Linked DNA regions of Homo sapiens: region 2 is linked to region 1. Evidence: fine-mapped expression QTL. A gene starts in region 1. The other region holds a variant in brackets. All regions are shown on one strand. Distances are between the middles of the regions.

What was found.
Region 2: its variant is fine-mapped to the expression of FAM114A1 in nucleus accumbens (GTEx, PIP 0.93).

What each region holds. Positions count from the first base shown.
Region 1 is chr4:38,864,755-38,870,135 of GRCh38, reverse strand. It overlaps FAM114A1 (family with sequence similarity 114 member A1), which reads right to left and starts at 2,330. Exons shown (of 15, transcript NM_138389.4): 1 at 2,302-2,330; 2 at 1,590-1,738. MIR574 (microRNA 574) reads right to left here and starts at 2,104; the gene lies at 2,009-2,104. It also overlaps a transcript of TLR6 not described here. RefSeq lists an enhancer at 1,196-1,779 and silencers at 1,987-2,036, 2,087-2,566.
Region 2 is chr4:38,904,052-38,909,432 of GRCh38, reverse strand. It overlaps FAM114A1 (family with sequence similarity 114 member A1), which reads right to left. Exons shown (of 15, transcript NM_138389.4): 5 at 3,798-3,911; 6 at 3,572-3,678; 7 at 707-841. Among named protein-coding and RNA genes, the nearest start is that of MIR574, 39 kb to the right of the region's middle. RefSeq lists an enhancer at 5,239-5,381. The variant C/T (reference allele first, on the strand shown) is at 2,411.

The DNA.
Region 1 (5,381 bases):
TGTCCTGCAGGCGTCAAGGGATGTGGCCTCTGGTCCCAGTATCCCTTTGTGGGCACACAACTTGATCCTCACTGTGCTTACACCTGCTCCTCTGTAAAGCTAGGATGGACAAACTGATCTGGATGCTTTTTTTTCCAAACTCCACCTGCAGGACTGGGGCAAGTCTGTGATGATAGAGAAAAATGAGGACAAGATTGCAAGTTTTTCATAAATCTAAATTTATTAAATGTAAAGGACTGCCTTCATCTTTCAAGTTTAGCCTTTGTGCTTTTTCTTGGTATTAAAATGTCTTTCATTTTATGAAATAGTGACAGTGGATGGATTTTTTTAAAAAAAATGGCCTGACTTGGCAGCATAAAAATTTGGTTAGCATGATATCCTGTGTGAGGTCATCTCCCCCAGTTAAAAAAAAAAAACAAAAACAGTGCCAGTCAGCGAAGGACCAGGAATAAAAACTCTGGATGAGAGGCTCTTAATCAGGTTGTAGCAGTTTGTATGAGTTTGTATAAAGCTTGACAAGTCTACGTACCCAGGCTCCAGCCTATTCTCTGTGAGGCTGCCAGGCATTTTTGGACCTATTTGCTCTCCTGTTCAAAAACCATTAGGTGTAAATATCTTCACACTTCCCATCATAATCCAGCTCCAATCTCTCTCCACCTCTTGCAACTCTCAGTATCCTCCACTCCTGCCTCACCAGTCTTTTCTCCATTCCCCATAACTCTTCACATCTCCCTGCCTTTGCTTACGCTGGTTCCTCTGCCCCGGTGCTGCCCTTCCTCCAGCTGCCTGGCAAACTCCTATTCCTCTAGACACCCAGTGTCTAATGTTACCTTTCATTCTGAATTTTTCCTTAATCTGCCCCACTGCTTCCAATGAAATAACTGCTACCTCTTCTATGTTTTTGGCACTTTGCACAGATTTCTATTCCATGTATTTATGGAGTATTTACTTCTGCCATTCTGTCCTCCAAGACTGTGACCAACAGCACCTAGGTTGGTTTCTGTCCCTCAGATATTTACTGAATTGAAATACATTGTGTTTGATATTAATAAAAGAGAAACCATGTTTGATGTAAGCCTGGTCAAATAAACAAAGACAAGTTTACTTTTATGGTCTGAATCGCTCAGATTCAAGAAAGCCCCCTCCAACCCTCAAATTCCTTCTGCACTGTCTCACTTGTGCCTCAAATCCATCCCTAACGTCTCATTCCTTCACTTAAAGGTTACAATGTAAGAAGTTTATCAGATTCTTTCCCAAGCTCAGGCTTGATGGAAGAAAGGAGGGCGGGGACGCAGGCCTATGGGTGGGGTAGGGAAGGAGCCACTAGGCTGCAGAGAGGGCAAAAAGAGGCTCTGAGGATAGAGCCTGTCTCATTCTCAGTTGTCACAGGTTGGCTGAGGTCACAGGGAGTTCAGAGCACACTGATTTAAGAAGCCACCTGCCTGTGTCCTTCAAGATGTTTAGGATGGGAAATGATGGGATCAGTAGGGCATAGGTAATGCTCTCACAGCCCATAGAGAGATGTCTTCCTACTTAAGAAAAGGCAGTGACGTTCAGGCGCCTGGTCTGAGGTGCCTGGAAATACTCACCGGATGGCAGAGGCGAGGGCTAGCCGACTGGGTGGAGGGGGCCTGGGGATCTGCGGTAGGGAGTGGGACCCATCCCGGGGGCTGCGAGTGGAGGCGGTGCCTGCTTAGAGTGTTGGCTGGACTGGAAGAGCAGGCAGGGCGTGGGTCGGCTGTTGGGGGAGGAGTAAGGCGAGGGGAGCGGGGAGGTCAAGGCCTGAGCTCCCTGTGCCAAGGCCGAGGGCAGGCGCACCCTGGGACGAGGCCTCTGTCTTACAGGGACCTGCTCCCTTCGTGCCCGGGCTGGGGGACCCTGCAGCCCACCTCTGACTTGGCCCCGAGCCATTGGGGGCACTTTTCCAGACTTGCTTGGTGCCAGGACTGGATACTTTGGGAGATCCAGGCAGGCTCCGCGGAGGTTCACGCAGGCCGAGGGGGCAGACCCTGAGTGTGGGCGTGTGGGTGTGTGCATGAGCGTGGACCCGGAGCGACACACACTCACACACACACACTCACACGCCCGCACCCACGCAGGTCCCTCGGCCGCGCCGCCCCAGACCCTCACCCCAGAGCCGGGTCCTCCCTGACCACTGCTTCTCACTAACGCAGAGGGCAGGATTCGTGGGTCCCGGACGAGGCGCCAAGGTATGGTGTTCCCACCACCCCCGGGCAGCCGCCCCCGCGCTCGCCCGCCCCCCGGGGAAGGGGATGGGGACCGAGTGCCCGGGGCTCTTACCGCTCAGGCGGCCGAGTACGCGCGGGAGTGCCCAGCGGGTCCCGCCCCGCCACGTCTGCAGGGCCGGCGGGGACGCGGCCGGAGGGCGGGCGGCTGGAGAGGGGGCCCCGCCCCGCCTGCGCCCCGCCCCACGAGGAGCGCCGCGGGGACGCCCGGCCACCCCCACGCTGCGAGGGCCGGGCCCGCGCTGGGCGAGTCTCCTGGAAACTTGGCTTGTCCCACCCCTGTGCCAGCGCGGAAAGCCAGAGCGCGCCGCCTCTCCAGCCCAGGGCGGGTGGGTCTCGGGGTTCGCCAGATCCCTTTCCTTTCCTTAAAAGGGCTTGGAAAACCCCCCGCCGTGTCACTGGGAAGAGGTCGCTCAAATTCAGCTAAAGTTTGATCTCCTGATTCTGCGTTAAGCAGCACTCCCTTGCCCTGTCGGTGGGAGTGTGATAGATTTAAAACAAACAAACCCCAAACAAACAACGAAAACCCACTTTCCAGAAGGCCAGTTTGGAGCTGTGGGTTAAAACTCCGATGTATTAGCTTTGGCCTAGGAATTCCACATTTGTGAATTTGTCCTAAGTAGGCAGTCAAATGGGCAAATATGTATGTACAAGGATGTTTGTTGTAGTTGTTTCTGCGGGGGGAAGCCGGAGACAATCTCAATGTCCCCCAGTAAGATTGGTGAAGTAAGCTACAGTAACTTCAGACATCGAATATGTTGTAGCCCTTAAAAATGAGGATTCGTTGACATGGAGGGAAGGCCACATATGAAGGCCTTCCTCAAATATGGCTTAATATGAACTCAGATGCGGAGGAAGCGCAGTGTTTATAGTATTAACTAGTTTTGTAAACAATTTTGTATTTTCTATAAAAGTCGGAGGAAATACAATTTAAAAATAGTGATTCTTTCTGAGCGATGTGTTTAAGGCAGATTTTCTCCTCTCTCACTCCATCCCTTCTTCTTTTTGAAGAATTATAAATTCAAAGTTAAAGAAAAAATAGCCCTAGTCTCTCCCTTTCAATATCACTACCATTTTTTATAGTGTGTGGATCCTACCATAGTTTTTCTAAGCTTATATAAATACATGTATGCATAAACAGCTTTTTGTTTGCTTTTTTATAAAAATGGCGAGATGTTGACGTATTTTGTAAATTTCCCCCTATTTATTATATATTATAATCATCTTTCTTGGTCAATACATATCAACCAAAACCACTCTTCTAAGACTTGTCTTATATATTGCAATATGTTTGTAATTATATTTCATTCAATCATTCTCCTATTGACAATTAGTTTGCTCCTTATATTCCAGTTTCTTCCATATATATATTAATTAATTTATTAATTCATTTTTTTGAGATGGAGTCTTGCTCTGTCGTCCAGGCTGGAAAGCAGTGGCGTGATCTCAGCTCACTGCAGCCTCTGCTTACTGGGTTCAAGCAATTCTCCTGCCTCAGCCTCTTGAGTAGCTGGGATTACAGGTGCGTGCCACCACACCCGGCTAATTTTTGTATTTTTTAGTAGAGACGGGGTTTCACCATGTTGGCCAGGCTGGTCTCGAACTCCTGACCTCAGGTGATCCACCCACCTCGGCCTCCCAAAGTGCTGGGATTACAGGCATGAGCCACCGTGCCTGGCTATATTTCTTATTTAATATTTTTATTAAATATTTTTATATTAATAATTTTTTAAGCTACTGAATATTTATTTTATTTTATTTTTTAGGAGGACAGAGTCTTGATCTGTGGCCTAGGCTGCAGTGCAGTGGCACCATCTCCATCTCCTGGGTTCAAGCGATTCTTCTGCCTCAGCCTCTTGAGTAGCTGGGATTACAGGTGCGTGCCACCACACCCGGCTAATTTTTGTGTTTTCAGTAGAGACAGGGTTTTGCCATGGTGGCAAGGCTGGTCTCGAACTCCTGACCTCAAGTGATCTGCCCACCTCGGCCTCCCAAAGTGTTGGGATTACAGGCGTGAGCCACCACACCCAGCCTGTCATTTTTAAATTCATAGAAAAACCAGAAAGTTATCTTAATGTGAGAGTGGGTGGAAACTGCTTTAAATTGAGATCAATAGCCTTTTTGAATTGAGCGAGACTTTGAACCTTAACTAACACGTGGCTTCTGTAACTCAGTTTTTCCACCTCTAAAATAAAGAGCATTGCTCGGCACAGTCCCTTCCAGTTCTGGCTTTGCGAGTGTTATCAAATTATGTTCCAGTTGCAACAGGTGTGTTTTGGTGTAGCATATACACAGACGTCTGTGCCTGGGACTTCTGCTCCTGCCCAGAGACAGCAAGCACCTTTGCTAACCTGCCTTCCCTTCCCTGCTGTGCCGTAACAGCCCAATCAGATGTTCTCTTTTTAAAGGGCTGAGTTCCTCTTCTCCTTTGACCCAAACCACACCTATCCAATAAAGAAAATAAAGCAAACTATCCTGGCAACAAGTTTGTTTTTTGTTTTGCCCACTGCAAATTTGTCCCTTTTACTCATGTAGCTGCTTCCAGGACTACCAGATTTTATTTCAGATATTTTATTTATTTGCAATGTAAAACATTTTAAGTTCATTTAAAAATTTTCTGGAGTATTTAAAATATATAGAAAAGTAAAGAATAATATGACAAATACTTATTTGTGTAAAAAATATAGGAAATACTATGATGATATCTAGATTTAACAAAATTTTTTGCAGTATTTATTTTAGAATTTTCTTTGCAAAGAAAAAAATGTTACGGATATGTTTGAAACCCTATCCCTTCCATTGTCCACCATCTCTGCAGGTAGCCATTTTCTTGAGGTGGTTGTATATCCCTCCCACCCATATTTCTTTCTTTCTTATTTAGGAATGAGGTCTTACTCTGTCACCTAGGCTGGAGTGCAGTGGTGTGATGACGGCTCAGTGCGGCCTCAGACTCCTGGGCTCCAGCAATCCTCCTGCCTCAGCCTCACAAGGAGCTAGGATCACAGGGTGCCACTGCACCCAGCAAATTTTTAAATTTTTTTGTAGAGTCGTGGTCTTGCTGTGTTGCCCAGGCTGGTCTCAAACTCCTGGCTTTAAGCAATCCTCCCGCCTCAGCCTCCTAAAGTACTGGGACTA
Region 2 (5,381 bases), 39 kb before region 1:
AAGACCATCCTTGCACATATCAAGAGAAACAGAATTTAAAATTCCAATGAGATACCATTTCCACCTATTATACCGACACATAATAACGGCAATGACAACAACTAACATTTCTGAATGCTTACTAAGAGCTGGGTTCTATTCTAACTCAGCGTATCCTCACAACAAAGTTATTGGTAGGTATTTAAATTATCCCCAGTGTACAGATGAGTAAGCTGAGGCACAGAGGGGCTAAGTAACTTGCCCAAGGTCACTCAGCTACTAAGTGGTAGAGATGGGATGCATACCATGACATAAATGGATCATCTTCAAGAAATAATATTAAGTGAATTAAGCAAGGAACAAGAGTGTGTTTAGTATGTTACCACTGGGTTGAAAAAATATGTGTGTATTTATGTGCATGTCTATCCACATGCATACATATGTACTTTTACATCTGTATATTTATGTATAGCTGCATCTATAGATCTATATCCATATCTCTCTGCGGTCTCTGATAGAATCCTTAAGGAACTGTTAACTGGTTGTCTCCTCTGAGGAATTAAGTGACTGGGGAAATGGGGGTATTAGAAGCTCAGTTTTCTCTCTCTGCTCTTTGGTGTCATTTGATTTGAATCACATGCTTTAAATGAGCTATTCAAAAAGATAAATAAAAAATTTATTTACTTTATTGACTGAAAGAAAAAATTGCAAACGTATATAATCCAACCTGAGACAAGGAAACAGTTCTCTCCATGAGCGTCTTGGTCCGCTTAAAGCCCGGGTCACTTTCTGCAAGGACATTCATGGTTTTCTTGCCGATGAATTCCAACGCATCAAGGCCTCCAGTTAAGACACTTTTACCCTGCAGATGAGATAACTGCATGAGATTAGATGTTTAGGTTTTGCTGTTTCGCAGCAGTCAGCAACTCCTAGGTAACTGGCACTATCTTCAAATATTAAAATCAATATAAAGTCACAATTTTTTCTCATCAGGAGATTTATCATCCATTTAATCCTATTCTCGTTTCCTTGGAAAAGCATATGTTATATAATTTGTAGGACATACAATGTTATTAAAGACTGATGCTTAGAAAAAAACCAAAGCACATAAAATAAAATTAATCCCACAAAGGGATTAATTTTACTGGCTCTCTGTGTATGAATGGATGTGTATCTAAGACATAAAATTAACATAAAATAAATTGCTAAGACATAAAATTAACATAAAATAAATTGCTGTTTCTGTTTAAAAATTTTTTTAACCCAAGTAACAGAGTTGCTTGGAGCAGTCTATTAAAATGTCAAACAGTCCTGCTAATTTAGGGAATTCTTTAATCTAGGGCCCTGGAGGGTAAGACCCTCAGGCTGTTTCAGATGGTTCTTGCATACTCTCAGAAACTAGCAATAACTGCCTATAATTAGTATATCCATGAAATGAGACAGGTTGATTTCCTTGTACTTCTGGCTTTAGAAACTGGTGTATTATATAGCTATCCTCCTGCAAATCCCTTTGTCAGTCATTGTTGCTTTTTTTAAAAAATTAAAATAACCCAGACTTACTCACACATAAACTATTCAAGTGAACAGAACTGCATACATGTCTTTGCAACTCTTTCATACTTACACTCCAACTGTATAACTGCAATTATAATATGCATACATCTGTGTTTTTCCCCACCATATATAAAAATGATATAAATTGTATTTTATTATGATATTATTACTGATATGCATTTTCCAATCTTCATAATTATCATTTAAATAGAAGTATTTAATTTCATAGAATTAATATACTTTATTTTCATCTTGGGTATTTAGACTTTGTTTTTAGATTTGGGAGCCAACCAGTAATCATGCTGTAAATCAGTTTTCAGTGCGCACACTTCGGGGGGATGATGGGACAGCAGCAATTCACACTTCTGTGTAATTTGACTTAGTGCCTGCTAACATCCTATGAAAAATTATTTTATTGAGAATAAAATGGTGGAAGAAAGGACACAGGGATTTGTGTTAAGGATAGACTTGGAGGGGTAGTGTCTGGAACTTGGGAAAAAGGGGTCAAGAAGGTTGGAGAGAACACAGAAAGGAATGTGAGGCTGCTGAAGACAAACTCATAGTGCCCTCTTGGTAGCTCAGATAGGCCGTGAATTCATTTCTTATACCAGAGGTACTGACAGAGCTCCATCCATCTCCCATCCTACAAACCCCCCACGGGGGTGGTTGACTTGTATTGCTACTTGACTCCTAAGACAGATTTGCTGCTCCTCCTTACTTCCCCCACCCCAGTCTAGAGGTCCTCAAATAGCAAGGAGAAGACCAGTCATTTTCTATATTTCTGGCATGTCCTGACCCCAAGGTCTGGGTGAGATCCTCTCATGTTTGACCGCAGCCCTCACCTCTTCCCGAATTACATTGTGTTTATTTGTTCAGT[C/T]GCCTCAGTCCTCTGGGATATTGTGCCCTCTTGTTTGCCAGCATATATCCAAGATCTAGCATAGATACTGGAACATAGTGAGGGCTAATCATGTTTGTGTTGTTGTTTTTCTTTTAATGAATGAATGAATGAATGAATGACTAAATGAGACACGAGCCATATTTTTAGAAAAACTAGTTAGTTTACATAGTAAGAAATACACCTTCACACCTGTAATCTCAGCACTTTGGGAGGCCGAGGCAGGAGGATCACCTGAGGTCAAGAGTTCAAGACAAGCCTGGCCAACGTGGTGAAACCCCATCTCTACTAAAAACACAAAAATTAGCTGGGTGTGGTGGTGGGCACCTGTAATCCCAGCTACTTGGGAGGCTGAGGTGGGAGAATCACTTGAATCAGGGATGCGGAGGTTGCAGTGAGCCGAGATTGCACCACTGCACGCCAGCCTAGGTGACAAGAGTGAGACTCCATCTCAAAAAAACAAAAGAAAAAACAAAATAAATCTTTGCTCCCTGACCCTGATGACCAGCTACCTGCCTTATCTCAGTTGAGGTGCCTCCCCTTTTTTCATTATTCACCAATGTTTTGCTGCTAATATGGAGCTTCTTCTAAGAGGTAGGCAGGGATCTAGGGGGATACACTTAGGGTGGTGTAAGGAGGAGGAAGGGTGGGAATGAAGAGGTAGGGATGGGGGAAGAACGCTGGTCTCTGGAAACACTTCAGAAACATATTTGGGCTGTTTTTCCTGTCTTGTAACGGGTACTTTTTATTTAAACGGTTTAATGCTTTTTCAAACTCAGGGATAAGATAAGCAGAGCATTTAGGAAAAACAGCTGTCCCAGCTCTGATAAAGAGTTCTCTCTCCCCTCAACCAGAGGCTGTCCTTGCCGCAGCTGGAAAGGACACTGTTAAATCAGACTGAAAAATGTTCCTTCCAAACAGCTCCCTTCTTTTAAACATAAAATATATTTCATTTTGCCCTTATTATTTTGAATCCAAGGTTACGTCTACTTTGTAGCAGAAAACATTAAAAAAAAAACCATAATCCAAAGTTCTGAGCAAGGCCATCGTTTCTCTGATGTATCTAGGTCACTGGTAAATGGAAATATCAAAAGAAGGCCCTGGGAAATACAGGGGAAAGAGAGGAAGCAGCCAGCGACTCACTGTGTTTTGAACCACATTGGTGATGGCAGACAGCATACCCCGAGAGGCTGATGAAGGGGAAGTGGGTGGGCTTTCTGCAGGGCCCTGATCTGTGGCTGCATCTGTTACTAAAGAGAAAAAAGAAATCCTTTAAGAGTTCACGTCGCTGATCTGAACTTGGAAAACCTCTGATTATGCACATGGTGTAATAAAGTCCAAGAACACCCAGAGGAGACACATCACTCACTTTCAGGGACTCCGTTTTCAGTATTTGGTTGGGCTCCTTCAGAAGATCCAGAATTTACACCATGAATCCGTAGAGTGGCTCCTGCTTTTTCCTTGACTGCCGTCAATCCATGACCTGTTGGAAATAAAAATATGGTTCATGGATACATTAGAAATCCACGGTCTGCAAATCCTCCACCAAATCTTACAAAGCTGTTTCAAGTTGCAGAAGTACATCTTTCTTTTTTTTTTTTTTTAAAAGATGGAGTCTTGCTCTGTCACCCAGGCTGGAGTGCAGTGGTGCAATCTTGGCTCACTGCAACCTCCGCCTCCCGAGTTCAAGTGATTCTCCTGCCTCAGCCTCCCTAGCAGCTGGGATTACAGATGCACACCACCACGCCCGGCTAATTTTTGTGCCTTTAGTGGAGACTAGGTTTCACTAAGTGTTGGCCAGGCTTGTCTTGAACTCCTGACCTCAGGTGATTGGCTCACCTCTGCCTCCCAAAGTGCTGGGATTACAGGTGTGAGCCATCGCACCTGGCCTGTAGAAGTACATCCTGATTGAAAGAAAGAGGAATCCCTGCTCCCTGAGATGTGGGTTCCAATATGAGCTCAGTTTCACCCCTGCCTGGTTGAATGACCTTGGAGAAGTTACCTAGCCTCTCTGTGACTCAGTTTCCTCATTGAGTTATTGTGACGTGCAAATGAGATACACGTAGGTAAAGTGCTCCCGGATGCTTCACTGTTTGCTTTTGCTTCTCACACCACCTAGCTATCAACCTGGAATTCTAAGCTCAACACAGTCTTTGTATAGTGTACCTGTCTCATCCTCTTTACTCTTTTGTAAGCTCCTTATGGAAGATATTCTTCATTCATTTTTTTGATTCCTTGCAGGCTTAGCACATTGCAGATGATCAATTAATATTGGTTGGATTGAAATCACCTGAGCCTCAGAATGTTTCTTTAAAGCATTAGGCCTTCCTTTAGGCATGGAGAGTGAAGGTCCTGGAGCTGACATCCAAAAATCAAAAGGCAAGTCAGTGGAGAAACCAGGAAGGCCACCCAACAGCCCCGACAGTTGTCTTAATAATGATATAAATCAACCTTAACAGCAGTCAGGCAGGCGAAGAGCACAGGTTTTACTCCATCTAAGCAGGGATAATACCCTTGTTCCCTGAGCCAGGCAGAGCGGTTATTCAATAACTATTTGGTAAATACAGAGCTGACCTTCCTACCCACAGGGAAAAACCCCAACCTTTGACCTGATACGGACATAGTCTTGTCTACATTTTATTCTGGAGAGATTTTCCTCCCTTTGAGGCCTTCACGATGAGCTATAGCTTTTCTGAGTTGTCAAACTGTTGAAGGAATGAATAGCCTACGGATGGTCCAAAGTGGCTGTCTGACTTCTTGAAGGAGAAACAGCACAGGCTGCCATCATCACAGAACTCCCCATCCCCCGAGCACTCACGGAGAAAATGAAAGATTTCTCTCGGGACCTGGGTGACCTCAGGTTGCTAAAACACAAGGCAGTAATATGAGGAAAAACGTCCCAAGTCCCAACAGAATTTGAGAGCTAACTAGAACCACCTAGTCTTAGAAGGCA